Linked DNA regions of Homo sapiens: region 1 is linked to region 2. Evidence: fine-mapped expression QTL. Tissue or cell type: thyroid. Region 2 holds a variant in brackets; the other region holds the start of a gene. All regions are shown on one strand. Distances are from middle to middle.

Region 1 (15,390 bases), 31 kb after region 2:
TTCCTCTTTTCCTAATTGAATACCCTTTATTTCCTTCTCCTGCCTAATTGCCCTGGCCAGAACTTCCAACACTATGTTGAATAGGAGTGGTGAGAGACGGCATCCCTGTCTTGTGCCAGTTTTCAAAGGGAATGCTTCCAGTTTTTGCCCACTCAGTATGATATTGGCTGTGGGTTTGTCATAGATAGCTCTTATTATTTGAAATATGTCCCATCAATACCTAATTTATTGAGAATTTTTAGCATGAAGGGTTTTTGAATTTTGTCAAAGGCCGTTTCTGCATCTATTGAGATAATCATGTGGTTTTCGTCTTTGGCTCTGTTTATATGCTGGATTACATTTATTGATTTGCGTATATTGAACCAGCCTTGCATCCCAGGGATGAAGCCCATTTGATCATGGTGGATAAGCTTTTTGATGTGCTGCTGGATTCGTTTTGCCAGTATTTTATTGAGGATTTTTGCATCAATGTTCATCAAGGATATTGGTCTAAAATTCTCTTTTTTGGTTGTGTCTCTCCCTGGCTTTGGTATCAGAATGATGCTGGCCTCATAAAATGAGTTAGGGAGGATTCCCTCTTTTTCTATTGATTGGAATAGTTTCAGAAGGAATGGTACCAGTTCCTCCTGGTACCTCTGGTAGAATTCGGCTGTGAATCCATCTGGTCCTGGGACTCTTTTTGGTTGGTAAGCTATTGATTATTGCCACAATTTCAGATCCTGTTATTGGTCTATTCAGAGATTCAACTTCTTCCTGGTTTAGTCTTGGGAGGGTGTATGTGTCCAGGAATTTATCCATTTCTTCTAGATTTTCTAGTTTATTTGCGTAGAGGTGTTTGTAATATTCTCTGATGGTAGTTTGTATTTCTGTGGGATCGGTGATGATATCCCCTTTATCATTTTTTATTGCGTCTATTTGATTCTTCTCTCTTTTTTTCTTTATTAGTCTTGCTAGTAGTCTATCAATTTTGTTGATCCTTTCAAAAAACCAGCTTCTGGATTCATTAATTTTTTGAAGGGTTTTTTGTGTCTCTATTTCCTTCAGTTCTGCTCTGATTTTAGTTATTTCTTGCCTTCTGCTAGCTTTTGAATGTGTTTGCTCTTGCTTTTCTAGTTCTTTTAATTGTGATGTTAGGGTGTCAATTTTAGATCTTTCCTGCTTTCTCTTGTGGGCATTTAGTGCTATAAATTTCCCTCTACACACTGCTTTGAATGCATCCCAGAGATTCTGGTATGTTGTGTCTTTGTTCTCGTTGGTTTCAAAGAACATCTTTATTTCTGCCTTCATTTCGTTATGTACCCAGTAGTCATTCAGGAGCAGGTTGTTCAGTTTCCATGTAGTTGAGTGGTTTTGAGTGAGATTCTTAATCCTGAGTTCTAGTTTGATTGCACTGTGGTCTGAGAGATAGTTTGTTGTAATTTCTGTTCTTTTACATTTGCTGAGGAGAGCTTTACTTCCAAGTATGTGGTCAATTTTGGAATAGGTGTGGTGTGGTGCTGAAAAAAATGTATATTCTGTTGATTTGGGGTGGAGAGTTCTGTAGATGTCTATTAGGTCCACTTGGTGCAGAGCTGAGTTCAATTCCTGGGTATCCTTGTTGACTTTCTGTCTCGATCTGTCTAATGTTGACAGTGGGGTGTTAAAGTCTCCCATTATTAATGTGTGGGAGTCTAAGTCTCTTTGTAGGTCACTCAGGACTTGCTTTATGAATCTGGGTGCTCCTGTATTGGGTGCATATATATTTAGGATAGTTAGCTCTTCTTGTTGAATTGATCCCTTTACCATTATGTAATGGCCTTCTTTGTCTCTTTTGATCTTTGTTGGTTTAAAGTCTGTTTTATCAGAGACTAGGATTGCAACCCCTGCCTTTTTTTGTTTTCCATTGGCTTGGTAGATCTTCCTCCATCCTTTTATTTTGAGCCTATGTGTGTCTCTGCCCGTGAGATGGGTTTCCTGAATACAGCACACTGATGGGTCTTGACTCTTTATGCAGTTTGCCAGTCTGTGTCTTTTAATTGGAGCATTTAGTCCCTTTACATTTAAAGTTAATAGTGTTATGTGTGAATTTGATCCTGTCATTATGATGTTAGCTGGTTATTTTGCTCGTTAGTCAATGCAGTTTCTTCCTAGTCTCGATGGTCGTTACGTTTTGGCATGATTTTGCAGCGGCTGGTACCGGTTGTTCCTTTCCATGTTTAGCGCTTCCTTCAGGAGCTCTTTTAGGGCAGGCCTGGTGGTGACAAAATCTCTCAGCATTTGCTTGTCTGTAAAGTATTTTATTTCTCCTTCACTTATGAAGCTTAGTTTGGCTGGATATGAAACTCTGGGTTGAAAATTCTTTTCTTTAAGAATGTTGAATATTGGCCCCCACTCTCTTCTGGCTTGTAGGGTTTCTGCCCAGAGATCCGCTATTAGTCTGATGGGCTTCCCTTTGAGGGTAACCCGACCTTTCTCTCTGGCTGCCCTTAACATTTTTTCCTTCATTTCAACTTTGGTGAATCTGACAATTATGTGTCTTGGAGTTGCTCTTCTCGAGGAGTATCTTTGTGGCGTTCTCTGTATTTCCTGAATCTGAACGTTGGCCTGCCTTGCTAGATTGGGGAAATTCTCCTGGATAATATCCTGCAGAGTGTTTTCCAACTTGGTTCTATTCTCTCCATCACTTTCAGGTACACCAATCAGATGTAGATTTGGTCTTTTCACATTGTCCCATATTTCTTGGAGGCTTTGCTCGTTTCTTTTTATTCTTTTTTCTCTAAACTTTCCTTCTCGCTTCATTTCATTCATTTCATCTTCCATTGCTGATACCCTTTCTTCCAGTTGATCGCATTGGCTCCTGAGGCTTCTGCAATCTTCACATAATTCTCGAGCCTTGGTTTTCAGCTCCATCAGCTCCTTTAAGCACTTCTCTGTATTGGTTATTCTAGTTATACATTCTTCTAAATTTTTTTCAAAGTTTTCAACTTCTTTGCCTTTGGTTTGAATGTCCTCCCGTAGCTCAGAGTAATTTGATCGTCTGAAGCCTTCTTCTCTCAGCTCGTCAAAGTCATTCTCCATCCAGCTTTGTTCCGTTGCTGGTGAGGAGCTGCATTCCTTTGGAGGAGGAGAGGCGCTCTGATTTTTAGAGTTTCCAGTTTTTCTGTTCTGTTTTTTCCCCATCTTTGTGGTTTTATCTACTTTTGGTCTTTGATGATGGTGATGTACAGATGGTTTTTTGGTGTGGATGTCCTTTCTGTTTGTTAGTTTTCCTTCTAACAGACAGGACCCTCAGCTGTTGGAGTACCCTGCAGTGTGAGGTGTCAGTGTGCCCCTGCTGGGGGGTGCCTCCCAGTTAGGCTGCTCGGGGGTCAGGGGTCAGGGACCCACGTGAGGAGGCAGTCTGCCCGTTCTCAGATCTCCAGCTGCGTACTGGGAGAACCACTGCTCTCTTCAAAGCTGTCAGACCGGGACATTTAAGTCTGCAGAGGTTACTGCTGTCTTCTTGTTTGTCTGTGCCCTGCCCCCAGAGGTGGAGCCTACAGAGGCAGGCAGGCCTCCTTGAGCTGTGGTGGGCTCCACCCAGTTCGAACTTCCTCGCTGCTTTGTTTACCTAAGCAAGCCTAGGCAATGGTGGGCGCCCCTGCCTTGCAGTTTGATCTCAGACTGCTGTGCTAGCAATCAGCGAGACTCCGTGGGGTAGGACCCTCTGAGCCAGGTGCGGGATATAATCTCGTGGTGCTCCGTTTTTTAAGCCCGTTGGAAAAGCGCAGTATTCGGGTGGGAGTGACCTGATTCTCCAGGTGCTGTCCGTCACCCCTTTCTTTGATTAGGAAAGGGAACTCCCTGACCCCTTGCGCTTCCTGAGTGAGGCAATGCCTCGCCCTGCTTCAGCTCGGGCATGGTGCGCGCACCCACTTACCTGCACCCACTGTCTGGCACTCCCTAGTGAGATGAACCCGGTACCTCAGATGGAAATGCAGAAATCACCCGTCTTCTGCGTCGCTCAGGCTGGGAGCTGTAGACCGGAGCTGTTCCTATTCGGCCATCTTGGCTCCTCCCCCTCGTAGCTGAAAAATTTAACAAGGGAATGGAATTCATCAAGCAAACTTGCATCCTCTTCCTAATTTGATTAAAAGGTCAAAGATTCCTTAGTTGGCCATATTATTCTCAGTTCTTTTGTTTTATTCTAGCAACCCGGCGGGTGGGGACTAACAAGAGGAAAAATACATTGCATCGGTCCTATGTTACACAGCCCTGTAAATTTCACACATCTGTTTTAGAAGGATGATTGCATGGATGCGCTTGCAGCAAGCATTGTGCCTTGGAGAAAGGAGAAAAACTTCAGCACCCACCTGATGAGTAAAGCGCCCATAAATAAAAATGTCATTTCTCCCGTAAGGGAAACTAAATTATGAATTCAGAAATTCATAGTCATCTGTTTTTATTGTTGCCTAATGCTTTTTAGATCTGCACAGGCCCTTCAGAAAATCAACTCCGAAATTCTGCATAATTAGGATATCTTTCATAGTCCTAAATGCTAATCCCATTGGAGAACAGATTAAGAATTCACAGGCATGATTTTTGGCATCAGGTACCTGCAGTTTCTTTTCTTTTTGAATAATTCATTATTTAAATACTTCAGTGCATATTGTATACAGCCCTGCATATTGTCTCAGGGGCAAGGGAGAGGTAAGAGATTAATATCCCATATAGTTCAACACTAAACACATTTGAGGCTCATTTATGTTGATTTGATATCATTGGATTGCAATTGCTAACAATGTTAACAGTTTTAGTCACCCCAGGGACCAATTTAGGGAAATTAAATAGGATATTCTGCAGGACATTAATAAGGTCAGAGATCTAACTTTTATAGTAGTTGACTGAGTTATTTCCTTTAAGAAAAAAACCACAAAAGATTCAGGAAATCATTTTCCATAAACAGTGCTGATTATTTGCAGTAAATATGGCTTCAGTTAGTGCTTTTCCATTCTTGGCTGTGAATGCTTTATGACAAAATGTATGAACAGTATGTAGAAAGTGATGTCCTATGGCTGACTTTTGTCCATGCAATGCTAACTGTGGGGGGTTCAGCAGTAAAGCAGCCATCAGTCAAGACTTGATGCCATACCCCTTCTCCCATGAAGGTTTCTTAGTGTCCTCACCACGCAGATGCTCTCATAGGAAACATTCATTGTGCTTTGAGTAACTGCTTGTCAAGGCATCCGTCCCATTGCTGAACAGTGAACTCCCTTTCATCTCTGTATCATCAGTGCCTTGCACAGTAACTGGCTCAGAAGCACTTCACCTCTGCTTCTTTGATAAATGAATGAATTTTCAAAGATTAACATAAACTCTGTTGGTTGCAAATAACAGGACCTAAGTCAAACAGCTTAAGCCTAAAGGGGAGAGTATTGTAAAGATACTATAGTCACATTGATTCCACATGCAGAATGTGGGCCGGGTAGAACCCAGGGTTCAAGAACTATCCACATGCTCCCATTTCTGGCTTCTGCCTCTCTCTGTGACAGCTCCTTGCCAGAAGTGCTTGCAGTGTTCCAGCCCACAGCCTCAGCTACCCACTCTTGCTCAGTTCCAGGATCAAGATTCTCCAGAACAGACTTTTTCTGATTGGCCTTATGTGAGCCAGGTGTTTCTCCAAGAGTCTTAGTCAGCTCAGGCTGCCACGACAAAATACCATAGACTGGGAGGCTTAAAAAGCAGACATGTATTCTTTCGCAGTTTTTCGAGCTGGAAATCTGAGATCAGGGTGTCAGCTGGACTAGGTCCCCATGAGAGCTCTCCTTCTGGCTTGCAATCAGCCACCCTCTCACTGTGTCCCCATATGTCCTCTCCTCTATGCTCATGAGGAGGGGGTGGGGGAGAGAAAGAGATCTCTGTTCCTCTTCTCATGAGGCCACTAGTCTTATCATGAGGGTCTACCCTCATGACCTAATTTAACCCTCATTACTTTCCAAAGGCCCCATGATCAAGCACCATCACATTAGGAGTTAGGGCTTCTTCATATGAATTGGAGGATACCCAAATATTTAGATCAAAACAAAAGGCTCTGATTGGCCCTATTTGGGCCAGGTGCCCACCCCTGGGCCAGTCAATGGTCAGTCAGTGAGGTCAGAGGCATGGCCAGCTTCTATGGGCACCATATGGGAGGCTTCGGGATGGATGTGGAGGAAGAGTTCCCAGAAGAGCGGGACTCTTGGCAAACCAAAAAGCGTTCAGTGTCCTTGGCAATATGTGTGAATGTGGTGGCATGGTGGTGCCTAATACCACCATTCTTTTGTGACTGTAAATGTGACTGACTTTCTGTCCTTTGGATGAGAACTAGCTTAGTTTGTGCTTGTGTCTGGCACTTCTTCCTTCAGTTGTTTTTGCTAGCATCTAGCATTAAAAATCTATACTTGTATAGTTTTAAAAATATATACTTTATAAAACAGTTTCACACACAACAACCACCTAACGCAATGTTCACAGCTGTCTGCTCCGGGGATGCTAACTCTATTTCCCATTTGAGGAGATCAAGGCTGGCCACCTGCCCCAGTTCTGGGCAGCATTACATGGCAGAGGAAGTCTTGGAGATAGGGTCTTAGGATGGCCAGTTGAGTTCCAGCTTCTCCTTAACAATCTTCCTTCTTTGGTATTAAAATGATGTGTCTGGCAATTTAGAGTCTTTGCCCTTTGGGAGTGATGACAGCTGGTGTCTGTCAGGCAGGTGCCCGGTGCCAGGCTCTGTCCCAAGCCCTTTACTAGTGCCAGCTGCTTCAGTCTCCACAGCAGCCCATCAAAGAAGGCACTATTGTTATCCTCTTAAATGGATGGGGAAACTGAAGCAAGGGTAGTGTGTAGTTCGCCCAAGGCTGCAAGGCAAGCACTGTGAACATCAGCAGGAACCACGTTTTCTTACTTGGAGGCTGTGCTTCAAGAGGGCACAGTGGCTGGACTGTGGAGGTTGTGGCCCTGCTGGAGGGTGAGGAGCAACAGTTCTGAGGGCAGATGGAAGGACATCAGCTCATTCTTCTGCACCCAGCCCCACCTCAGTGACCCAGACAGGAAGGCCTTTCCCAGGGAGGGTGGAACTGCTCTCTGCTGAGCTGTGTCTGCACATGGTCAAAATTGACACACTCTAGAACCCAGGGGTGTCAGAGAAGCTAGGGGGCTTGTGGTTAAAGGGAACTTAAGCCAGAAGGGAGGAGTCTTGTCCACAATCACCTGCTAGTTTGTCTTAGGGCCTAGGTGCAAACCCATCTCCAATTGTCCATCCAGTGCTCTTTCCAGCCCTTGGACCTCTCAGTCAAGGTTCTCTCCCTCTGGGCCTCAATTTTCTCCTCCATATAATGAGGAATTCAATCTGACAATCCCAAGTCTTCTGTCCATCCCTATTGACCAAGAATCCCAGAGACCTGCCTAAGGCCACATTACTGCTTCCTCTTGTTGGCCATACTGGCCAGTTAAGATCCAGCCACCAGCTGTGGTCAAGGGAGAGAGAAAACTCACCCATAGCCTTAATGATCTTTGGAATCTCCATAATCACCACAGGCTGGCTGTGCTTGTGACAAGTGCTCACACTAGCAGTCAGCCAACCATCAGCAAACCTCTCCATGCTGGTCTCGGAGTAGCTGATGACCAGTCCTGGTCTCGGGGTAGCTGATGACCAGTCCTGGTCTCGGGGTAGCTGATGACCAGTCCTGGTCTCGGGGTAGCTGATGACCAGTCCTGTTCTCGGGGTAGCTGATGACCAGTCCTGGTCTCGGGGTAGCTGATGACCAGTCCTGGTCTCGGGGTAGCTGATGACCAGTCCTGGTCTCGGGGTAGCTGATGACCAGTCCTGGTCTCGGGGTAGCTGATGACCAGTCCTGGTCTCGGGGTAGCTGATGACCAGTCCTGGTCTCGGGGTAGCTGATGACCAGTCCTGGTCTCGGGGTAGCTGATGACCAGTCCTGGTCTCGGGGTAGCTGATGACCAGTCCTGGTCTCGGGGTAGCTGATGACCAGTCCTGGTCTCGGGGTAGCTGATGACCAGTCCTGGTCTCGGGGTAGCTGATGACCAGTCCTGGTCTCGGGGTAGCTGATGACCAGTCCTGCTGGCCTCAGCATTGTCCAAGGTCCTTTAATGTGTGTAGTGGTGGAAGAAAAGACTTTATTATTTGTTATCTGCCTTGCGGGGTCTCCTGGACAGGAGCAGATAGACACAAATGGGAGCTGGTTTAAATGGCGTTTTTGGGGACACAGGGAATGACCTTCCCTGTGCCCAAACATGAAGCAGATCCCCTCTTTCCTTGGTGTCCCTGTTCAATTTTCATGTTTTTATTGCTCAAATGTCTCCCATGGCTTTCTTTATCACATTGCTTCCAAATCCAAGATGGCGCTCCATGGTGTAGCTCCCTGGGAGTTTCCAGCATGACTGTCAGGTTTGAGTCAGCCATGGATGCCATCAGTTGGGTGTTGACACTCTCTTTGACATCCTTGGGAGAGCCCCAGGCAGACCCGGGCTGTGTTCTGTTTAAGGAACCATGAACTCCACTTCACTGTGTGATCTTGAGCCAGCATTTAGTCTCTGTAGGTCTTCTACTTTAACACTCAAATGAGAATGTTGGCCTAAATGATCTCTAAAGTCTTTTCTGTCTCCTCCTTCATTGTAGTTCCCATCTTCAATACTTCCATTGCTCCGAAGGTGGAAGTTCAGCATTTTAGCCCCCAAGTCCTAGCCCTGCTGAGTGTGACATGCAAAGCTTCGACCCACAGCAGGAAGTCTCACAGTTCTGGGCTAGGACTGCAGCTCTGTTTTCAGGAAAGTTATCTGGAGGCTCTTCTTCCTTTAGCCTCTCCCATGGCTTTCAATGTGGGGCAGGTGAGTTAATTATTCAAGGGGGTGTCTCTGCCAAGAGAAAGTCACCTGTGGAGAAGAGTTCTGTGTCTGGACTTGGAGCACAGCCACGATGCTGTCATCTGCTTCCTCTTGGCACACACCCTTGATCCAAGGCTTGCCATTTTCACTTCTAAATTACTAGGTTAATAGAAATGGCATCAAAACATTAAATAAAGTGAGGCATATACCATGGATCTGCAATTCTAATTGACTTGAAATTTAGAATCTGATAATTATTAGCATTGTGTTAATCTCCGTTATCATATGTGTAGCGAACACTGTGCAAAATAATTTGGGTAGAGAACGCGCAACTGTACTTTCAAAATGATGCCTAACGTGACTCTATTCTGTGTTGTTGTTTCACTGTTTTGCTCACCAGATCCTAACAATAACCCTGTGAGTGGCAGATGGGGTATTTTCCTTCCAGTCTTCCTCCTGGTAAACTGAGACTCAGGGTGGTGAGGGAACTTCCCATGGTTGACCCAGGACCAGAGCCCCCTTCTAGGCGAGTGGACTCCACCCCCAGCCCCCACGTGATGCGCTGTTTTTCCGATGCCCTCTTGCAGCTGTTGCTGCTTCTGCGCTGGGAGTTCTCTTTTTCACTTGAATGTTTTCTTCTCCAGGGCTGAGGACGCTCTTTGTATTGGTAGGCAGCCTGCACTTGTTCCTTTCAGTCCTGGCAAGTAAAAGCAGGAATTCTAAAAAGCAACGATTATTCCTCCTAGTTCCTTTGTACAGAGCCCTGTAAATAATTTATTTGGATTTGAGGGGGTAGAGACTGACAAACATATTGAATCTCTCAGTAACTGGGTGAATTCTGTGTTCAAAACTTCAATGCAGTGGAAAGAGAAATACTTCTTTGAAATCAGAGAAGACTTTGAGTGACCCGAGAGCTCAGGCGTGAGGCTGGAAACAGACCACAACAAGAAGTTTTTTTTTTTTTTTTTTTTTTTTTGGCACGTAAAGGTCACCCCTGAGGTTCCCACATCCACATCCTTCACAAATGTAGCTGGGATATTGAGACAACTAGCTCTGGAGTTGGAAAACACTGGGACAGGTCCGAGCTGGGGCACTGCCCAAGTCCCTCCTGTTGCACTCAATACCTGGGTTAAACAAAGAAAATTGTGTTTGCCAGTCTCACTAGCTAAAGTCACAAGATACTGAGTCTCATGCAGCACTCTGGAATTCCTACAAAAACTCATCCGCAGGGGTATGCTGCCCGCTACACAGAAACGGCCGTGCATCGGACTTTCCAGATAAAAACATTTAGTACAGAGTTGAAAAACCATGTGATGGTCATGGATTTTGTGAAGAGTAACTGGTTTCCCTCCCAGAGAAGAGCCAAAGTTTGTATCATCCATATGTGTCAAGGCTTGAAGACGGCTGAGCAGACAGCCAGCAGATATGAGGTATGGCTGAGCCTGGGTGGGTGAGTGGGTACACGCTTGACTCAGAGAGAGATGGACGTGTTGCTCATCAGACAGTTCAGGTGTTTTATCTGGTCTAATAAATTAATCATTTGTGTTTGTAGACTTCCCTAAGGGATTTGGAAAAGCCTTCTTCATTTCTGAATTTATTTTAGTTTTTGAAATATGGGGGAGGGGGAAAGTATATCGGATGAAGTTAATTTACGATGACACATGTCTGCATTTACAAACTTTATTGGTGCTCCAAAGACTACTGAGTTGGGTAATTTGTATCCATGTTTAGAAACTACAGCATGTTTCTGTGAGTTAAATATTCTTAGCTCTGTATGTTTGCAATCACCTGTCTTTAAAAGCAAATTCCTACTTGTTTCCTGTTGCGTTTTGTAGGAGAATATGTATGACGTGCCTTCATCGAGTTAAAATAGAATGATTCAAGTTAGGCCAGTAAGAATGATCTTTTATTTTTGAGAGCAAGCTCTAATTTTCAAGCAGAGACAACTTTGTAAAAAAAAAAAAAAAGACAGAGAGTGAGAGAACTTTGGAGATTTAAAATGTCAAAGTGAGATAAACACATTACTCTGAAACATATTTGTATTCTGCAACTAGTATCAGCCACAAGCAGTTATCTTTTCAGAAAGTAAACACGCATGAAATCTGATCGGCTGTTTATTGTACATGGAATAAATTATGAACGACATTGTAATTGACTCCCATATAGCTCATTTACCCATCTCTTTTGATAGATGTAACATGCAAATTGCTAATGCCTTATGAAAAGGTAACCTTTCTGAATATTGATGCTGTTATTAGGAAAGCCTTCCCATGAATACTGGCAAATACGCCAGGTCTTTGTTCCCCAGGCTGGGCAGAAGGAAGCCAGCACAGTGTGGAAGGAACAGGTTTTTCAAGGTTCAAGGCTGGCTTCTTCCAGTTCCAGCCCTGGGAGTGTGAATTTCCATGTTCACAACAGAGATGTAAAGGCCACAGAAATAATGGTGCTAATTAAATTCAGTAATAGTTGTTCATTACTTCATTGCCCAATCAACTGGAGCAAAAGGTGTGCAATTAGAATATAATTGAAAGAAATCAGAGATGTCATTATTCACAAGTAATTAATCAGATGGGGACAGAATTTTATCATTGCATAATTTTCACTGAGGTTATTTTCCAGTCCTCCAGAGAGAGAAAAACTTGTTGAATTACATTATTATGCATTGTTCATAGCTTCATTTTAAACCCTATGTAGCAAATGGTAGATCTGGCATTCTCGTTTTCTTCGTATATAAAACTTCACTGATTCCTATAGCCACACTGATTAAAACAATATGAAAAAAGTACACCTTTTTAGGAGGTTACAAAAAACTTCAAATATATGACAGTCACAGCTACATTTTTTTCAGGGCCCAATACGCTGCTACTATTGACAGCCAACAACCGAGCCACTAATGTTAAAATGAATGCCAGATCCAAGCCCCCACCCACAATCAGTCTGATGGGCTGGATGGGCCTCACTGTGTCCATGACTCCCCAAGTTGTCCAGGAAGGGCCTGCCTCCTCAGCTCTAGGGCGGGCCAAGTTTGAAAACCATCAGATGGGATTTGCACCCCCTGTCCCTCTGAACTTCAAGGTCTGCTCTTGACTTTTGGTAGCAAACATTTCCGATTTTAAAATATTCCTCATCCATTAAACTATTCTTCATGTTATTCCTACCATGACATCTCAGCATTATTTAGATTAGGAAATTTAGGAAGAAGGAAACTTCCTTGCTCAATTTCCCAAGCTGAACTGCTGAGAGACCCCAATTAGCACTTCTGGGTTCTGCCTTTGGACTTGGCCCAGTGACTCCTTCTCTTCTATCAGCTCCAAGGCCATTGGTTAACCTGCCCTGGGCTTTGACCACAAAGTACTCAATGGGCTGACAAATGAGCAGGGTCTCTGGGATGAACTCTCAATGCACAAAGGTGCTAGATTAAAGAAACTGGCTGGTTATCTGGCAAAAGTGAGTTTTGGAGATTTTATTTCTGTAAAAACCTTATGGATTTCAAGTTCTTCCCATGAGGTCCTGCAAATCTGCTTGATTTTAGTGTAAAACCTACAGACTCAAATTTTTCCAAAACCATGGTCTTAGTCCTGAGCTGTCTTAATGGTTGGAGAAGCCACCTCTCACCAGCTGAACTGCAGCCCAGGGATGATCCAGCCACACGCATACCTTTACATAGACTTCCTTCTGATAGGAACAAGGAGCAGAGCCTGCTGCACTGAAAGTTACCAGGATTGGGAGCAGGTGGTGGTGAGGGGTGCTGAAGGTCCCTGGGTTCATATTTTCAAAGACTTGATGTCTGCACACTCTAAAAATGCCCCAAACTCTGAGAAATACAGTTTGTTAAGGGCATGTCTCCCCCTGCGTATGTTTTTGATGAATTTCAGACATCAATGTAGCCATAACTGGAGGATGGGATGAGCCTATATTGGAGCTCTGCCTTCTGTCCGCATGGCAAGCAGGGACACTTTCTGAGACTCTCTATGCAGCAGAGCTTGCGTGGTTTTGCCAGCTTGGGAAGGGAAACCTCATAGAATTCAGTGATGTGCTCATATCTCCTATGGTGTGAATGTAAGTGAGCATCTCCTGATTGATTGTGGAGACCTTTCTGATGGTAGGTGCAGGCTGAGATGCATCAGCTAAGGCTCACCCATCTGTCCTCTGACAGGCGACAGTTTCTAATGCCTTTAATCACTAAATGAGCCAAAGAAAGATTTTGTATTTGGAAATCACTATTTGGCCATGCCTCCTGATATTTTTCAAAATCTCCATCATCATTTCCATCTCCTTTTTCTATTCATTCTTTTAAAAAATTGGGTTTAGTCAGCTGGGTGTGGTGGCTCACGCCTGTAATCCCAGCACTTTGGGAGGCTGAGGTGGGTGGATCACGAGGTCAGGAGATCAAGACCATCCTGGCTAACACAGTGAAACCCTGTGTCTACTAAAAATACAAAAAATTAGCTGGGTGTGGTGGCAGGTGCCTGTAGTCCCAGCTACTCGGGAGGCTGAGGCAGGAGAATGGCATGAATCTGGGAGGCAGAGCTTGCAATGAGCCGAGATTGTGCCACTGCACTCCAGCCTGGGCGACAGAGCAACACTCTGTTTCCAAAGCAAAACAAAACAAAACAAACAAAAAAAAATTGGGTTTAGCCAGTAGTGCTGAATTCTGGCTGAGTAGAATCATAGTGAACTTTTTTTTTTTTGAGACAGGGTCTCACTCTGTCGCCCAGGCTGGAGTGCAGTGGCACGATCTTGGCTCACTGCAACCTCCGCCTCCCGGGTTCAAATGATTCTCCTGCCTCAGCCTCCTGAGTAGCTGGGATTACAAGCACCCGCCACCATGCCCGGCTAATTTTTTTTGTACTTTTAGTAGAGATGGGGTTTTACCATATTGGCCAGGCTGGTCTCGAACTCCTGACCTCATGATCCGCCCGCCTTGATCTCCCAAAGTGCTGGGATTACAGGTGTGAGCCACCGTGCCTGGCCTCATAGTGAACTTTTTAAAGAACTGCATATGCCTCTGGTGCAGCCATGGCCATTGTGACTCAGTGGGCCCAGAGCAGCGTGAAGGCATTGGCAATGACAAACAAGGAAGAACACTTACCAGGTGACTCCTTTCATCTCCCACACCCCTCCTCGTGCTCATGCTTTCCTCTACCTTCTTGAGCTGCTTTAAGGTCCTTGTCTCCTCATTTTATCAGCATCTGTTATTTCTGCATCATTTCTAGTGATTGATTTTCCTCCTGATTATGGGTCATGCTTCTTTGCACACTAGGTAATTTTAAAATTGAATTTTGGATATTGTGAATCTTACATTGTTTGGTGTTTGATTTTGTTAAGTTATTTGAAAACAGCTTGACCCTTTTGAGGCTTATTTTTTCGATTTGTTTGGGCTTGTTGAAATACCCTGGGGATATTTGGTAATGTCTGCAGACAGTTTGGTTGTGACAACCTTGGGGAAAATGCTACTGGTGGCTAATGGGTAGAGGCCAGAGATGCAGCTAATATTCTACAATGCACAGGGCAGTGCCACCTTCAACCCCGCAACAAAGAACTACCTAGCTGAAAATGTCCATGGTGTTGAGGCCTAGAAACCCTGATGTGGGCTAATTTAGTCCCAGTGTTACAACATGACCCTTCTGAGGACTCTACCTGATGTCTCATGTGTGACAAGGTGTTTGTACCTGGGCTGGCGGGAACCTAAATTGCTTCCAAATAGCTCCTGAATGATGTGACCTACCACTTTCTGGAAGTTCTTTTCTTGGTTTCAGGTATTTTTCTCTTGGGCAGGTGCAGATCAGTATTCAGGCAAAGACCTGGGAAGTTCCCTGCAGGCTGCTGGAATTCTCCTTTGCAGTTCTCCTCTTCCTAAATTCCAGCTACATTGGCCTCTCTAATTTCCGTCTCTACCTCCTCCACTCAGCAAAGACCCCAGGCTCAGCTGAGTTTCCCCTCCTAAGCTGCAGCCTGGACACTGCCTCCAGGTGGGGACAATTGTAGGACTCACCTCTCTTGTTTTCCTCCTCTCAGGGGTCATAGTGCTGCATTGCTTGTTGTTCAATATCTGGAAATCATTGTTTCCTAGCGGTTGTCTGGTTACTCTATCATGGCTGGAAGAAGAAGTCTCCCAGAGTGGTTTCAATATCCCACCATAGTTTGGAAACTTAGCTCTGGGCTTTGATGAATGTTTTCCAGTGGTTGGAGTACACCGTTCAGTCTTGTAAAATAAAAGCACTCAAGTTAAGTACTTGGGCTTCAAGAGAACTTGATTCAGGAAATAAAGAGGTCACTGAGACCAAACAGGAGGTAAAGCGAACATTTCCTTTCTTCTCACAGTTATCAAAAGGTGCAAAACAATTTTCCCTATTTCCAGACCAAGTTGAAGAGCTTAGCCAGATCAAAGCTTTTGGAGTCTCACCTTTCCCCCTGAAGTCCCGGCCTCCAAGCAGTATTTTTGCTGTGATGTGCTTATGGCTCTGACTGCAGTGAAGACTCTACCTCCAGCCTGAGGAGGGCTGAGAAAAGGCTGTTTCACAAAGGGCAATAAAGACTTCCATGAGC
Region 2 (15,390 bases):
GAAGGGAAAAGCTTTTCTTTTTTTCCTTGCTTACTGTATGTATTCATCTACTTGTTTACGGACTCATGTATTCTTATTTTATTTGATGAGTTACTAACCATTACTAATATTATAAATTTTGGTGCTCAAATTGTCACAGACTTAGTCACTGAAAGCTCTGTGTGGCTCCTATGTCCTCTTGATATGTCCCCATCATTCTTTGAGCAATTTCTTGCTTTCTGGTACAATATGATGCCACAGTCTTATTTGTATTTTACTTGTCCCATCCCTGAGATCAGCCTAGGATTCTTTGTTCTTTTTAGTGAAGAATGGTATTTAGAAGCCAAAATCTAAACAGCAGATATGCTCGTTGCTACTGGTGTGTCACTGATTCTAGATCTTCTCAGTGGACAGAGCTAAGAAATGCATGCATGCATATACATAAACATACAAATACATATACTTCGAGCACATATGTATGCCAATATGTTTATTTTTATAGATATTCTGTGTGTGTATATATGTGTATTTGTGCATAGACACACATGCGTGCACACACACACACATACATGAATACATGCGTATATGCATCAGTGCATAATGACCACTCCAATTCCAATCTAGCACCATGGGGTACACCCTGATTTTGCCCCTTTCCCTGTCTGTGACCTTTTTTCCGATTGTTAGATGCCTGGCTCTGTGTAACCTACAGCATCTTGTTCATCTCCTAGCTCTTTGCTAAATTTCGCAGGCTTATTCTGTGTATGCTGAGTCCAGCTGTTGCTAAAGAACCAGAGGCGAGCTCCCACTTCCTCTCTCCTTGCATGTTCCCCACAACTTCCAATTGTCTTGGCAACCCCAAACTTCTTAGCCCTGCAGGGTTTGGACTTCACTTCCCATATTGAACTCTGGAAATTGCTCCTAGAAAATGTGCAGCTTACCTGGTATGTTTCTTGTCTCTCATGGGTTACTCTCCTGCATTGCCTCTTGTCTACTGTCTCAAAACAGTTGCCACATACATTTTGCTCAGTGTCGTGGCTAGCTGTTATCTTAGTCTGTAACAAAACTGCTATAACAAAATACTGTAAATGGCATGGCTTAAACAATATAATTTTATTTCTTGCAGCTCTGGAAGCTAGAAAGTCTAAGATCAAGATATTAGCAAGATAGGTTTTATTTTTCAGCCTCTTTTCTTGACTTGTAGGTGGTGACCTCTTGTTTGTGTATGTGTGTGGAGGGAAGCAAGCCCTGTGGTATCTGTTCTTCTAAGGGCACTTATCCTATCCATCAGGGCCCCACCCTCAGAAACTCATCTAATGCTAATCACCTCCCAAAGGTCTCATCTCCAAATACCATCACATTAGCGATTAAGGCTATGAGTTTTGAGGTTGGGACACAAACGTTTAGTCCATAACACCTATTTATAGCAAGGAGGTACATCTGACACCAGTTACTCTGTCATGGCCAGACAAGGTAGTCTCTGCTTAGTTTTTATTTTACTCCAAAACACCGTATTTAAATTGTAGTGTTGGCCGGGCACGGTGGCTCACACCTGTAATCCCAGCACTTTGGGAGGCCAAGGCAGGCGGATCACGAGGTCAGGAGATCGAGACCATCCTGGCTAACACGGTGAAACCCCGTCTCTACTAAAAATACAAAAAAAAAATAGCCGGGCGTGGTGGTGGGCGCCTGTAGTCCCAGCTACTCGGGAGGCTGAGGCGGGAGAATAGCGTGAACCCGGGAGGCGGAGCTTGCAGTGAGCCGAGATCACACCACTGTGCTCCAGCCTGGGCAACAGAGCGAGACTCCGTCTCAAAAAAAAAAAAACTTGTAGTGTCGTGTGCTTTGAGTTCAGTCACATCCACAGCCTGCTAAAAGTGCTGGTGGGAAAGATAGAACACAGCATGATTTCAGACTTCAAGGCAAGAGAAAAACCAATTTTGTATTCTAGAAAATAGAATAAACTCATTTCTTTTAGCATCTTATTGAGCCTTCAGGCATTGATATTTACACGTTTTATCAATTTGGGATATCACTTGGAGAAGAACTTCATTAGCAATCCCAAATCATCTGTGGCCTTCTCACATGATTTGTTTCTGTGTATCTTGGACACTGATATTTCTGTATTTGTATGTGTGTTTGCTGTAGTTAATTTTTTCTGATTTATAAAAATACTACATATCACTTTTTGCAAAATTTGCAAAATTATATGACAGAATAAAGAAGAAACTTGTATCATTGGTAATATCATTTAAAGATAACTACTGATGTCCCTTTGAATTTCCCAATGTGTTTAAAACAAGCATGGCTTGCTTTCAAAAAAGTCGATTATTTTAACATCTCAATATACACATGTATTGTTGAAGATGAGAGTGGAAAGGACCTTGAAAGAGATCTCAGTCAACAATTTTGTAGCTGGGTAAACTGAGGTTCAGCAAGTGCACCTGGTCAGGAATGCCTAGATCTTTGCATTATATCTGTATTTCACACATTGTGCCACTTCTGTAACACCTCTTCAATATTATCAGAGTCATAGATCACTAGTCCTTTTTCCTAATAAACGAGCATCTTACCACTAAACTTCAAACATTTGCCCTAGTGCTGCCCCCAGTGCTATTGCTATCAGTCACCTCACCTTATGCGTGATGTTACTTTGTAACAATAACAAGTACCATTGCCCAATATACAGAGCAAGGCAATACACCAAGACACTGGGTTGCAGCAGAGAAACAGGTTTATCTGTGAACCCCGAATATCTGAGACTGGTCTCCGTTAATTTGGAAAGTTTATTTTGCCAAGGTTGAGGACGCATACCTGTGACACAGCCTTAGAAGGGCCTGATGACATGTGCCCAAGGAGGTCAGAGCATAGTTTTGTTTTACACATTTTAGGGAGACGTGAGACATCAGTCATCATACGCAAGATGAACATTGGTTCTGTCTGGAAAGGCAGGATGACTGGAAGCAGGATGACTGGAAGTGGAGAGGGGGCTTCCAGGTCATAGGTAGGTAAGAGACAAATGTCTGCATTCTTTCGAGTTTCTGATTAGCCTCTCCAAAGGAGGCCATCAGATATACATTTATTTCAGTGAGAGAGGGGTGACTTTGAATAGAATGGGAGGCAGGTTTGCCCTAAGCAGTTCTCAGCTTGACTCTTCCCTTTAGCTGAGTGATTTTGGGGCCCCAAATGTATTTTTTTTCACAAATCATAGGACCACCAAACAAGGAGACAGGAGGAAACCTCAAATCCATCTTCCTGAGGAGGCATGTAAACCAGACAACTCCATCTTAAATAGGAGCTAGGTAAAATGAACTGAGGCCTACTGGGCTGCATTCCCAGATGGTTAAGGCATTCTAAGTCACTGGATGAGATAAGTGTTTGCACAAGATACAGGTCATAAAGACGTCGCTGATAAAACAGGTTGCAGCAAAGAAGCTGGCTAAAACCCACCAAAACCGAGATGGCAATGAGAGTGACCTCTGGTCATCCTCTGCTACCCTCCCCACCAGCGCCATGACGGTTTACAAATGCCATGGCAACATCAGGAAGTGACCCCATATCATCTAAAAAAGGAGACATGAATTATCCACCCCTGGTTTAACATATCATTAAGAAATAATCATAAAAATGGACAACCAGCAGCCCTCGGGGCTGCTCCATGGAGTAGCTATTCTTTTATTCCTTTACTTTCCTAATAAACTTGCTTTCACTTTACTCTGTGGACTCGCCCTGAATTCTTTATTGTGTGAGATCCAAGAACTCTCTCTTGGGGTCTGGATCGGGACCCCTTTCCTGTAATACCTGGATCTCTCCCCGAGAGCAGTGGGTCTCAAAGTGAGGTTTCCAGACCAGCAGCACAAGAGGCACCAGAGAACTTTTAGAAATGCAACTTATGGCCGGGCACGGTGGCTCACGCCTATGATCCTAGCACTTTAGGTGGGTGGATCACCGGAGGTCAGGAGTTTGAGACTAGCCTGGCCAACACGGTGAAACCCTGTCTCTACTAAAAATACAAAAATTAGCTGGGCATGGTGGTACGTGCCTATAGTCCCAACTACTCAGGAGGCTGAGGCAGAAGAATTGCTTGAATCCAGGAGGTGAAGTTGCAGTGAGCCAAGATTGCATCGCTGCACTCCAGCCTGGGTGACAGAGCGAGACTCCGTCTCAAAAAAAAAAAAAAAAGGAAAAAAAAAGAGAGAGAGAGAAATGCAACTTATTAGGCTCCACCCTCACCTACAGAGTGGAGACCCTGGGGTGGGCCAGCCGGCTGAGCTGTGACAAGCCAGCCAGGGATTCTGATGCAAGCTATTGAGAACCCGGTCTTTATCTTAATATAATTATTCAGGGGTGTGGCCTGAGCTTTGGCAGGTGCTTCTAAAGCTTTTCAGGTGATTCTAATGTGTAGCCCAGCCTGAGAATTATTGCTCTTGAGCCACTTGCTGCTTACAGGTCTTGCATCTCCAGCAAACTGGCCTCCTGCAGGCTGCTCTTCATCTGAATAATGGCTTTTTCTATTGTTTATGGCAGATTTCTCTTCATCTTTCTAATCTGTATTATAAAAGAGTAGAAATGTAATTTCCCCGGTTAGCTTATATTTTACATGAAAAATGGCTACTTTGAATCAGACAAAAGGGAAGATATCTTTCAAAGGGTAACGGCCCCTGTTTAGTCAAGTTGCAGCTTTCTTTTTTTCATTGTAAGGGGAGTGAATAATTCATATTCATTTCTCCTAAATTGGTTTTCTTCGGGGTATCTCCCCCCACGTGTATGGAAACAGTCTGGTGGGTGAAATAGAAGCAGTCAGCCGGGTCTCGAGACCCTCCAGATCACTTTTTTCACAGTATGATTGAGAATCGGGACATTCGCACAGCTTTACGGGATATCTGGAAATCAAAGAAGAAATTCTAGGAAGGCAGAGGCTTCCAGCAATGTCCTCACTATGTGTGAAGTGCAGCACCATTTTGCATCTGAAACATTTCATGACCTACTGGTTGGTGTAAGGCAGGCTTCGTCAGTGTCAGCACTATTGATGTGTAGGGCCGGATATTATTTGTGGTGGGGGCCATACAGTGCATTGTAAGGTATTAGCTGCATCCTGGCCTGTAGCCACCAGAGGCCCATTGTGCCTCCAAGTTGTGACAACCATATATCCCTCCAGACATTGTCAAATGGGGGGTGGGGAAAAGGGGTGGCAAAATTGTGTCCAGTTGTAAACCACTGGCCTCAGGTGACAGAGGTTGTGGTCGCACCAACTTGCTCTCACTGCCCCTGGATCAGTGGGTGTCTGGACTGGCTGTGGGCCTCCGTGCTCCTCCTCAGAGCGGTCCCTGTGTCAGCTGCTCCCACCCCACATAGAGAGGCAGCTGGCAGGTCCTCCTCTCTATGACCCCTTGCAGGTCCTGGGTGTGGAGTCAGGTGTCTTCAAGAACAGAGGCAGTGGGTCTGAGGGTAGGGTGGGGTGGAGCATGCCTCTGGAAAGATCCTGCCATAACCAAATACCACCCCAGCAGGTACAGTGGCCTGGCTGGCAAGCTTCTTTGCTTCTCTGGCCTCCTGCCTGCTGGCCCTGCTGGCTCTGCCCTCACAGCGGTCCCCAGGTTCTGGTTTCTAAACCCAATCTTGCTCCTACTCTGCATCACTGCCTGTTTGACCTTGTATCTGGTCACAGCAGCTCCCCACTTCTGGCATCAGGGCTGGCAGCTCCTGGGCACTCTGCCCTGCTAAACCACTGGAACCAGGTGACCTCTGACTGTGAAGGACAGCCAGGCCATCTCAACACACTGAGTGGACTTGGATTCTCAGGCTCCAGACACTGCCTCTTGAGACAGCACTCTGGCTTTGCTAGTTGGAAAGTGCACTGGCAGCCTGGGGTTTGTTCTTGATCCACGGATTTGTTCCTGTTTGTGTAGTACTAAAGTCATTGAAACTAGCTGAGTGTAACACAGTGATTTTTTAATGTCTCCTTATCACATTTTTACATGTGTTTATTGCTTAGTTCCTGAGGGATGTATTTTTTCCCCTTTCATATAAATACTTGTGTTGCCTCTTTTTGAAGGGAGTTTCCTTTTATTAGACTCAGCGGTTTAATGGAATCAACTCTTCAGTGCTCAAAACTATTTCAAAAAGCGTAAGCCTCTTTTGTTCCCATCCTTGCCCTCCAGATGATTCTGATTCTATTAGACCAAGAGCCGCCAGCCTCCACCTGTAAGTTCAGTACAGAGAACATGCTTTCAATAGATCGCACAGGTTATTTCATGGATGTCTATTAGAGGAGGATCACAGTCTCTTTTGGATATTTTACATCTAGAAGAAAAAGCATTTCCCAGTAGGAATTCATACCCATTATATGGTCCGGGGCTTCCCCACATCCTTCCTCCTTACAGAAGTGAGGTGGCATCCGGTACTGCTGAGGCTCTGCTTTGAAAACCCCTGGTGGGTTCACTCTGGAGGATAAACAAGAGCCCCCACTGTTCACATCCAAAATCTTTGGGGGAACCATAGCTCTATAGGATTAGATATCTGTGAAGGTGGAATTCTGTCAAGGGTTTCCCAAAAGGTGACCACACTGACCTGTTGGAGAAGCTGGCTGGCACCTCCTCCCTTACCCTCTGGAGAGAGCAGCTCTCGTGTCCTGCAGGAATAAAGTGAGCAAGGGGGAAGCGGGGTAGGTGGCCCCTCCGGATCTGGCTGTATGCTCTCTTCTCAGAAAGATTAGGACATTTGGATTAGAGCATTCCCAAGCTCTATTTGCTTTTGATAAGAAGATTTGGCTTATTTATTTATTTATTTATTTATTTATTTGAATGCAGGTGAGAACTTAAGGCAAAGGCAGGCAAATGAATAGTGTTGAGACCGTTTCCTGTGGCCCCAAGGGGGATAAAAACAAAGTCAGTACGAGGCTTTCCCTGCCTCCTTGTCTAGACTCGGGATGGCAACAGATTGAGTTCTTTCTGTGCCAGTTCTGGCTCACTGGCTGTGTCTGCCTGGGTAAGTGATTGAGGATTCTGAGGCTGCATCCAGAGCCAGCAGAACCTAAGTCTTGATTGGCTCAGAAGGGCTCCATGGGCCCTGAAAGAAAAGTGGTAGAGTGGGCGGGTGAGGCAAGCACAGAAATAACCCCAGGACACGATAAACTGAACGTGCTCAGAAGAAGACTGGCAGCATATCACATGCTTGGG[C/T]GAGAAATTTTTCCTTGGGTTTGGGGAATAAGGAGGGGCTTCATTTAGAACAAAACTTTATCTTTTACCTCCTATTTTTGTGTGAGTGGTTTGCGTTATGGTGTTAATGCATCTGTAATCTTTAGTAATTTTGAATTTCCCAAAGATACGATAACAGGCAGTTCTGTTTCTACCAGGCATCCATGTTTGAGAAGTCTAAAGGGAGAAGTTGCACAGTGAGGAAAGCACATGGCTTATTGAGCAGATCTGCGTCCAATGTGCCAGGTGGAAGAATGGCCAAGGGCTCCATTGGTTCACACCTGTGTGGTCTGCGTGGTGGTGTATTGGACCGATGACCCCATCGGCACACTTGCAGAGCCTAGTGCCTACCCCTGACCAATGACTGCCCTTGCTCAGATTTAGTTTGCTTCTCTGGGTTCTGGGTTCTGGACCTTTTAAATTCATCTGCTGCTGTATTGCTGGGCACATTTCAAAGCTTCCTGGATGAATAAAAGTGCATTAAATGCAGCATTGCATCTGGTCCAGGTGATCTGTTTTCTTAGTGATGTTCTCAAATCTGTGAAAGAATTCAAAATCACCTCCTAAATTCTTGGCAGTTATTAAACAGCAGTCTTTAAAATGAGCAGGAAGACATTGATACAGGATGAGAAAGTTCTTCTCTGAGTTATTCCTCCTTTTGTTCTTCCTCAGGCTGGAAGTACAGGATTGATTAACACAGCTCTGTGTGGGCTGAACCCTGAGCCACCTCCCCAGCTGTGAAGTGGGACTCATCCCAAGGGTCTTGCCAGTGACTGGCTGGGCTCATCACTCAGATGCCTAGATAGGACCAGCTTCCCAGTGGTCCCTGACTACCTGGCTGTTAGCTGTGATGATGGCTAAAAGCAGTTAATCAGATGGTCATAACATTATTGGCTTGTGAAATCCTTCCTTTCTCAGAGCTTCCAGGGTTTGTATCTTGTGTGTTTGGTTTGATTACACTTGGAATACCAACTGTATTTTAACCAGCTATTAAACACAAATTATTTCTAAATAATCCTCATAGCAAATGACTGTAAGATATATATAGCAAAGTTATAAGAATTGTTCTTTACAGTTTCCTAGCATGCATGTTACAGTGAGAGTCTCAGCTGATTCCTGTGGCTTGACGAAGACTCTCTCCTTGGCCAAACTTTGATTGGGCTCTCTGACCTCTCCTTCTGACCAGGCCTTGAGCTTAGCCCCTGTCCTGTCCTTTACCTGCCCAGCCCAGCCTTAGTAAGGCTCTCACTACCCTTGATATCTGATCAAGTTTCTCATCACCCAACTTTGAGGTCTAAGTCCTTGGCCTGCCTTTAACAAGAATCCTGCTAGGTGAGTTTAGCAAGAACCCCCTGATCCTTGATATTCTTCTGAGTAATTTTCCATCCACTGAACCCCATGCTTCCCCACCCTTTACCCTGCTTCTTGTCTGTCAAGCCCCTTTGTCCTTATATTTGAAGTTGAGCCCACTCTCTTCCCTATTGCATAGAGATGACTTCTGTTGCAGTGGTCTTGAATAAAGTCTTCCTTATCTTTTTGTCAAGTGTCAGAATAAGTTTCTATTTAACAGGCTACTCTCTAAGGTGAATAAGGCAAACATTAGTCCTATTTCACTGAAAAGAAACTGAGGCTTTCATTGTTCTGTTCCATACAACAGATGACATTGCTGAGACCTGATTTCTGGTTGGCGGAGTCACTTTTAGCTTTGCAGACTACACAATCTTCCCTTATTCCTTCAAGCCAGAAATCAGCATTTCCTTGCTTGAATTTACTGCAGGAAACTTGGCTAGAGATGTGCAGGGGAAAGGGGCCAATCACAACAAGGGTGGTGAGGGCAGAGCAGGGAAGGAGAAGTATACGTCTTTGACCTCTGGGCCCCCCAGTGACCAGGTTTCCCTGAGCTGCAGGTGAAGCCATGGCTCCTCAACCCATTTCTGCTTCTCGTCCTGGAAGTAATCCCTAGAATGGGATCCTTTACACCCAGACAGTGTCCACTTAGAATTAATAGAAAGGGTATCCCTAATTCCCTATGTGGCTTTGAGTATTTTGCTTGACTCTTTTATATTTTGGTTTTCTCTTGCATTCAATATAGGAGGCAGCCAGCTCTAAGACTAATTCCAATTATAAAATTAGTGAGTCCAATATTCAAGACCACTTATTTTGGAAAAGGGAGTAAAAGGTATAGGGAGGGCAGATAACCCAGTCACGAACAGAATTGAAATCAGGAGCCCAGCTCCCGGTGTCCTTGTTCTTTCCTCTCTACCCATCTGGATCAGCATCCTGTGGGCTAACCACAGATCTGACTCAGTACCACTGAGGAACAGCTGCATTTGGCCCTTCTAGAGCATGAGGTCAGGAATGAGGAGTCTAAACATCAGAAAGAAGGTTGGCTCCCATGCTTGTGCTCTGCATAGCATTATGCATGCATATCCCATAGGCTAAAATGCACTTACCAATGAACAAAGCTAAGATTAACAGGGTGCTAACCGGATTACAGGGGAGGATGGGAGGTGGAGCAAGGAAGAATGCACCTCTGGATTCCATGTTTAGCTGAATCTCTTCCTTGTGTTCTGTTTACAGACGCTTGGGGTACTGTCTTCAATTCAACAAGAGAATCAATCTTTGTTGCTGGCTTGCAACAGAGTCTAACAGGCTTCTTTTCTTATTGTCTGGACCTCTTGGGCACTCTCCTGGGTCTTCCATGGAAAACATGTAAATCTTACAGCTGCCATCATCACAATCATTGTCATATCACCTTATGACTGTGTGTGCCTTATGTGTGTAACCCAACAGAATGTGTGCCCCTTGAAAGAGGAACATTGACAAAGCTCTGTCTTTGGATCCCTGGTGATCAGCCCCCGGGGCAGTGCTTTGTGGAGAGTTGTTGAATGTGCTATTGAATTTCCTGAACAAAAGTCCTGATCCTGGGTGGGAAGAGCACAGTTGGAATGCCAGCTCTCCTGGTGATGAGTGTTGTGGCCACAGTGTAGAAAGAGGAGGGCTACATGAGTGCTATACCCCTACCAGCTGTGTGAGTGTGGTCTAGTAGCCTGACTTCTTTGAGACATAGCTTCTGTACCTGCCCCAGGACTCTCATGAGAATTGAATGAATGATTTTTTGCAATAGTTTTAATGGAACATCTCATGTGAACCGATGGGCTTTGATGGAGTGAGTTGCCCCAGTAGAGGTTTAGAGGGTGTGTTCTCCCAGGTCAGATGGACTTGAGTCCACGTCCTGGCTGTGCCTCTACCCAGGTGGGTGACCCTGAGCACATCACTCCCTTTTCTGTGCCTCACTTTATCCTTTTATAGCATAGGGGGGAGCCATAGCATCAACCTGTGGGGTCGTTGTGAAGATGAAATGTGCTGGTCCTCTACACTAAGCCCTCTCTCTACACTGTGCCTGGCCACTGGAACACCCAGTAGGTGTTAGTTAGAATGTTGTGCCTTCAAATTTATGTTCTGGGTACTTTTTTTGAAACTTCAGTCTGATTTTCCATGTCCCTGTCTTAGCAATGACAGAAGTAATTTTAAAACATTTTCCTAAAGTAGTTTTTGTTTTGTTTTGTTTTTTTAGCAACTTAAAATAGCAAACATTTATTATCTTATAGTTTCTTTGGGTCAAGAATCTGGGCACAGCTTAGTTGGTTTTTTTTTTTTTTTCTTTTGAGACGGAGTCTCACTCTGTCACCCAGGCTAGAGTCCAGTGGTGTGATCTCGGCTCACTGCAACCTCTGCCTCCCAGGTTCAAGCAATTCTCCTGTCTCTGCCTCCCGAGTAGCTGGAATTACAGGCACATGCCACCACATCGGGCTAATTTTTGTATTTTTAGTAGAGATGGGGTTTCACAATGTTGGCCAGGCTGGTCTCAAACTCCTGACCTCAGGTGATTCATCCACCTTGGTCTCCCAAAGTGCTGGGATTATAGGCATGAGCCACCATGCCTGGCCCTTAGTTGGGTTTTCTCTGGCTCAAATTATCTCTTAAAGTTTTAGTCAAGCTATCAGCAAAGGTTAGGGTTTTCATCCAAAGCCTTGGATGGGTGAGTGTCCTTTTCCACACTCATTCATGTGGCTGTTACTAGGGTCCAGTTTCTTGCTGGCTGTTGATCACAGGACTCCCTCAGTTCCTTGCCACATGGACCTCTCCAAAAGGTAGCTCACAATGTGGCATCTGGCTTCCCTCAAAGCAAGAAAGCAAGAAAAAATTCAAGATGGAAGTCTTTTTGTAACCTACTATTAGAAGTGACATCCCATTACTTATACTGTATTCCTTTTTCTTTTTATTTTCTTTTATTTTTGACTAGCTCTCTTATAACTTTATTTTATTTTTATTTTTTATTTTTTTGACTACCTCCCTTATAACTTTTTTATTTTTTTATTTTTTTCCATAGATTATTGAGGTACAGGTGGTAGGTTGTATTTGGTTACATGACTAAGTTCTTTTCTTTTTGTTGTTGTTGTTGTTGTTGAGACAGAGTTTCGCTCTTGTCACCCAGGCTGGAGAGCAATGGTGCAATCTCAGCTCACTGCAACCTCCCCAGGTTCAAGCGATTCTCCTGCCTCAGACTCCCAAGTAGCTGGGGTTACAGGTGTCTACCACCATACCCAGCTAATTTTTTGTATTTTTATAGAGATGGGGTTTCACCATGTTGGCCAGGCTGGTCTCGAGCTCCTGACCTCAGGTGATCCACCCGCCTTGGCCTCCCAAAGTGGTGGGATTACAGGCCTGAGCCACTGCGCCCAGCTAAGTTCTTTAGTGGTGATTTGTGAGATTTTGGTGCACCCATCACCCGAGCAGTATACCCTGCACCCTATTTGTAGTCTTTTTTCCCTCACCCCCTCCCACTCTTCCCCCCAAGTCCCCAAGTCCATTGTATCATTCTTATACCTTTGCATCCTCATAGCTTAGCTCCCACATATCAGTGAGAACATGTGGTGTTTGGTTTCCAATTCTTGAGTTACTTCACTAACATTAATAGTCTCCAGTCTCATCCAGGTTGCTGCAAATGCCGTTAATTCATTCCTTTTTATGGCTGAGTAGTATTCCGTTGTATATATATACAACAGTTCCTTTATCCACTCATTAATTGATGGACATTTGGGTTGGTTCTATGATTTTGCAATTGCGAACTGTGCTGCTATAAACATGCGTGTGCAAGTTCCTTTCTTGTATAATGACTTCTTTTCCTCAGGGTAGATACCCAGTGATGGGATTGCTGGATCAAATGGTAGTTCTACTTTTAATTCTCTAAGGAATCTCCACACTGTTTTCCATAGTGGCTGTACTAGTTTACATTCCACCAGCAGTGTAGAAGTGTTCCCTGATCACCGCATCCACACCAACATCTGCTGTTTTTTGATTTTTTTGATTATGGCCATCCTTGCAGGAGAAAGGTGGTATTGTATCGTGGTTTTGATTTGCATTTCCCTGATCACTAGTGATGTTGAGCATTTTTTCATATGTTTGTTGGCCATTTGTATATCTTCTTTTGAGAACTGTCTATTCCTAAAATCTTTTTTAATGAAGAGTAATGCATATTCATTACAGAAAAGAAATGAAGAGCAAGTTGTCTATAGTGCCACCCTACAAACAGACCATTGTTATTATTTTAGCATACTCCATTTAAACAGCTTTCTCTGTGTGTACAAGTTTATATTACATGTTTTCATTTAGACATTTCAGTTTTTAAAAAAATATTCTAATTAGCACCTTTGACAGTTTAAAAAATGTGTTTTTCATCATTTCACATTATTTCCTTCAGATCTTTCTTTATCAGGTTACTGGTGAATCCTTAGCTGTGGATGGTGGAGGCAGTTTTGTTCTGGGCCCTTTTGCATCCACGTTAATCTTCATGAGTTTTTCTACTCCTAATGTACTAATCAGCTTCAGTCCATGCTTCTTGATTTCAGAATACTTGCTTATTTTTTATATGCTAATTCCAGAGAGTTCTCAGTTAAGTGGTTCCAAATTCATTCTTGAATCTATAAAAGTTTTCTAACTCAGATCCATAGGCATTATAAATGTATTCCTATTTTTCTAGCTCTACATATTCCATTTTAATACTTTAGCTATTGTGCAACTGTTGGAAATTTAGGAAGTGTGGTTTCCTTTTTGATAACACTTTCTTCAAGATAATTTCCTGCAACTTTCCTGGGATGGGGAGAAATTGAATATACCGCTTTGGTTTTTGAAGAAAGAATATCTCTGTTGGACTGGAAGATGCCTGGAAGATTCTCCCTAATTACTCAAAAGTTTCTTTATCTCTGTTTTCCCCCTTTTCTTCAGTTTTCCATTTTCCATTTCATCCTACCTAAAGTATATGCGGTAACAAATTCTTTGTTCCTGGGATTTGCTGCATTTTGGTGCTCAGTGTTTTACAAGTACTGTGGAACATCTATAAGAGAAAATAGAGACATTTATTGAGCTCCTTCCTTGCATGATTCTCAGCACTTCCTCGAGGTGTTTAAAATGTAATCTTTACCCCAGACGTCTAAGGTAGACATTATCCTCCCATTTTATTAGTAATAAATTAAACCTCACTGGTGTATGCAGAGGAAGAGTCTGGATGGAGAACCCAGTTGGTTCTGATTCCTTGATGAGTTCTTGCATTTTTGTCAGATTGAATCTTTAAACTATCCTTGGATTCCTTGAGCCAATGGGTTCCTCTCTTTGTCCAGCCTGGTTTACGTGGGTTTCTGTCATTTGTAACCTGAGGAATCCTGACTAAGATGTACTTGTTTAATCTTCCATTAGGCTGTAAGCTTCTTGAGATTAGCTACTGGGTCCACACTTATTCTTTGATCCTCAGGAGAAGGAAGGGGAATATTTTTTATTTAGACAGGGTCTCACTCTGTCACCCTGACTGTTGTGCAGTGGTGCAATCATGGCTCACTGCAGCTTCAAACTCCTGGACTAAAGTGATCCTCTTTTTGTTAGTCCATTTTCATGCTGCAGATAAAGACATACCCAAGACTGAGCAATTTACAAAAGAAAGAGGTGTAATTGGACTTACAGTTCCACGTGGCTGCGGAAGCCTCACAATCATGGCAGAAAGTAAGGAGTAGCAAGTCACATGATACTTGGATGGCGGCAGCCAGAAAATGAGAGATAACTTGCAGGGGAACTCCTTTTTTTAAAACCATCAGATCTCGTGAGACTTATTCAGTATCATGAAAACAGCACGGGAGAGACTTGCCCTCATTATTCAATTTTCTCCCACCGGGTCCCTCCCACAACATGTGGGAATTCAAGATGAGATTTGGGTGGGGACACAGCCAAACCATATCACTCTTGCCTCGGCCTCCCGAGTAGCTGGGACCACAGATGTACACCACCACACCTGAAATTTAAAGATTTTTTTTTGTACAGATGGGGTCTTGCCATGTTGCTCAGGCTGGTCCTGAACTCCTGGGCTCAAACAATCCTCCTGCCTTGACCTCCCAAAGTGCTGGGATTATAGGTGTGACCCACCATGGCTGGCCTGAAGGGAAACATTTTTCTGAAACAAAAATGCGAATAGATTCATTGCAAATTAAACAGAATATTTGATGTGAGGATTACCTTGTAAATTTGGGCCATATGGTCCTTTCATATAAAGTTCCTTTGAACTTTAAAATTCTGTTAATTAGAACTGAGGCATGAGTGCACTAAGATTTGGAAATTCCCATCATGAGGACTTGGGCTTTTTCATAGAAGACAATTGGCAGTGTGTCACTAAAGGCTTCTCCAGAGGCCATTCATGAACAGCTGGTAAATTAGAAAGAAAGAAAAAAAGAAGGCAGAGTGAGTAAAGCTGACGGCCTGGGAGAAGTTTCTAGTGTCAAGAAAGATGAGTGGATAAGAGGCCACTGGATGTTTGTGCTTCACTGTCTAAAGCATCATCCAATGTATCACTGATGCACACAGTCATACTAGCCAGTGTGACTGCCTAAGTAATGCAGGATTTATAGTTAGAATAAAAGAGTATTTTTGGATTCTAACTATAGTAACTGCAGGTGAGCTTGGGTAAGGTGCTCTGGCATCTTCCTCTCCCCTTTCATTATTGCTGCCAAACTGCTTTTTTCTGCTCTCTCTGCTGCCCAGACTCAGATCACACCCATGCACATGGTTCTGTCTTGGTTGGCCCAAAACGGCAGGCTTCAGTCTATATTTCCTTCCTGACTGGTCTCTCAGGGCTAATTGACTGAGTCTCCCTGTCTTTGAGAGACAAAGC

Alleles and levels. Positions count from the first base shown, and alleles are read on the strand shown. Sizes are in standard deviations (SD) of each study's normalised expression.
As copies of T replace C in region 2, the expression in thyroid of the gene that starts at base 9,819 in region 1 goes up (large effect, 0.77 SD a copy in GTEx).

Evidence for each region.
Region 1: it holds the start of C10orf90, and the variant in region 2 is fine-mapped to the expression of C10orf90 in thyroid (GTEx, PIP above 0.99).

The regions. Positions count from the first base shown.
Region 1 is chr10:126,665,122-126,680,511 of GRCh38, reverse strand. C10orf90 (chromosome 10 open reading frame 90) reads left to right here and starts at 9,819. Exons shown (of 10, transcript NM_001350921.2): 1 at 9,819-10,271. The coding sequence starts at 10,032. RefSeq lists an enhancer at 3,104-3,644 and a silencer at 7,571-7,793.
Region 2 is chr10:126,696,466-126,711,855 of GRCh38, reverse strand. No RefSeq gene overlaps it. Among named protein-coding and RNA genes, the nearest start is that of C10orf90, 33 kb to the right of the region's middle. The variant C/T (reference allele first, on the strand shown) is at 7,158.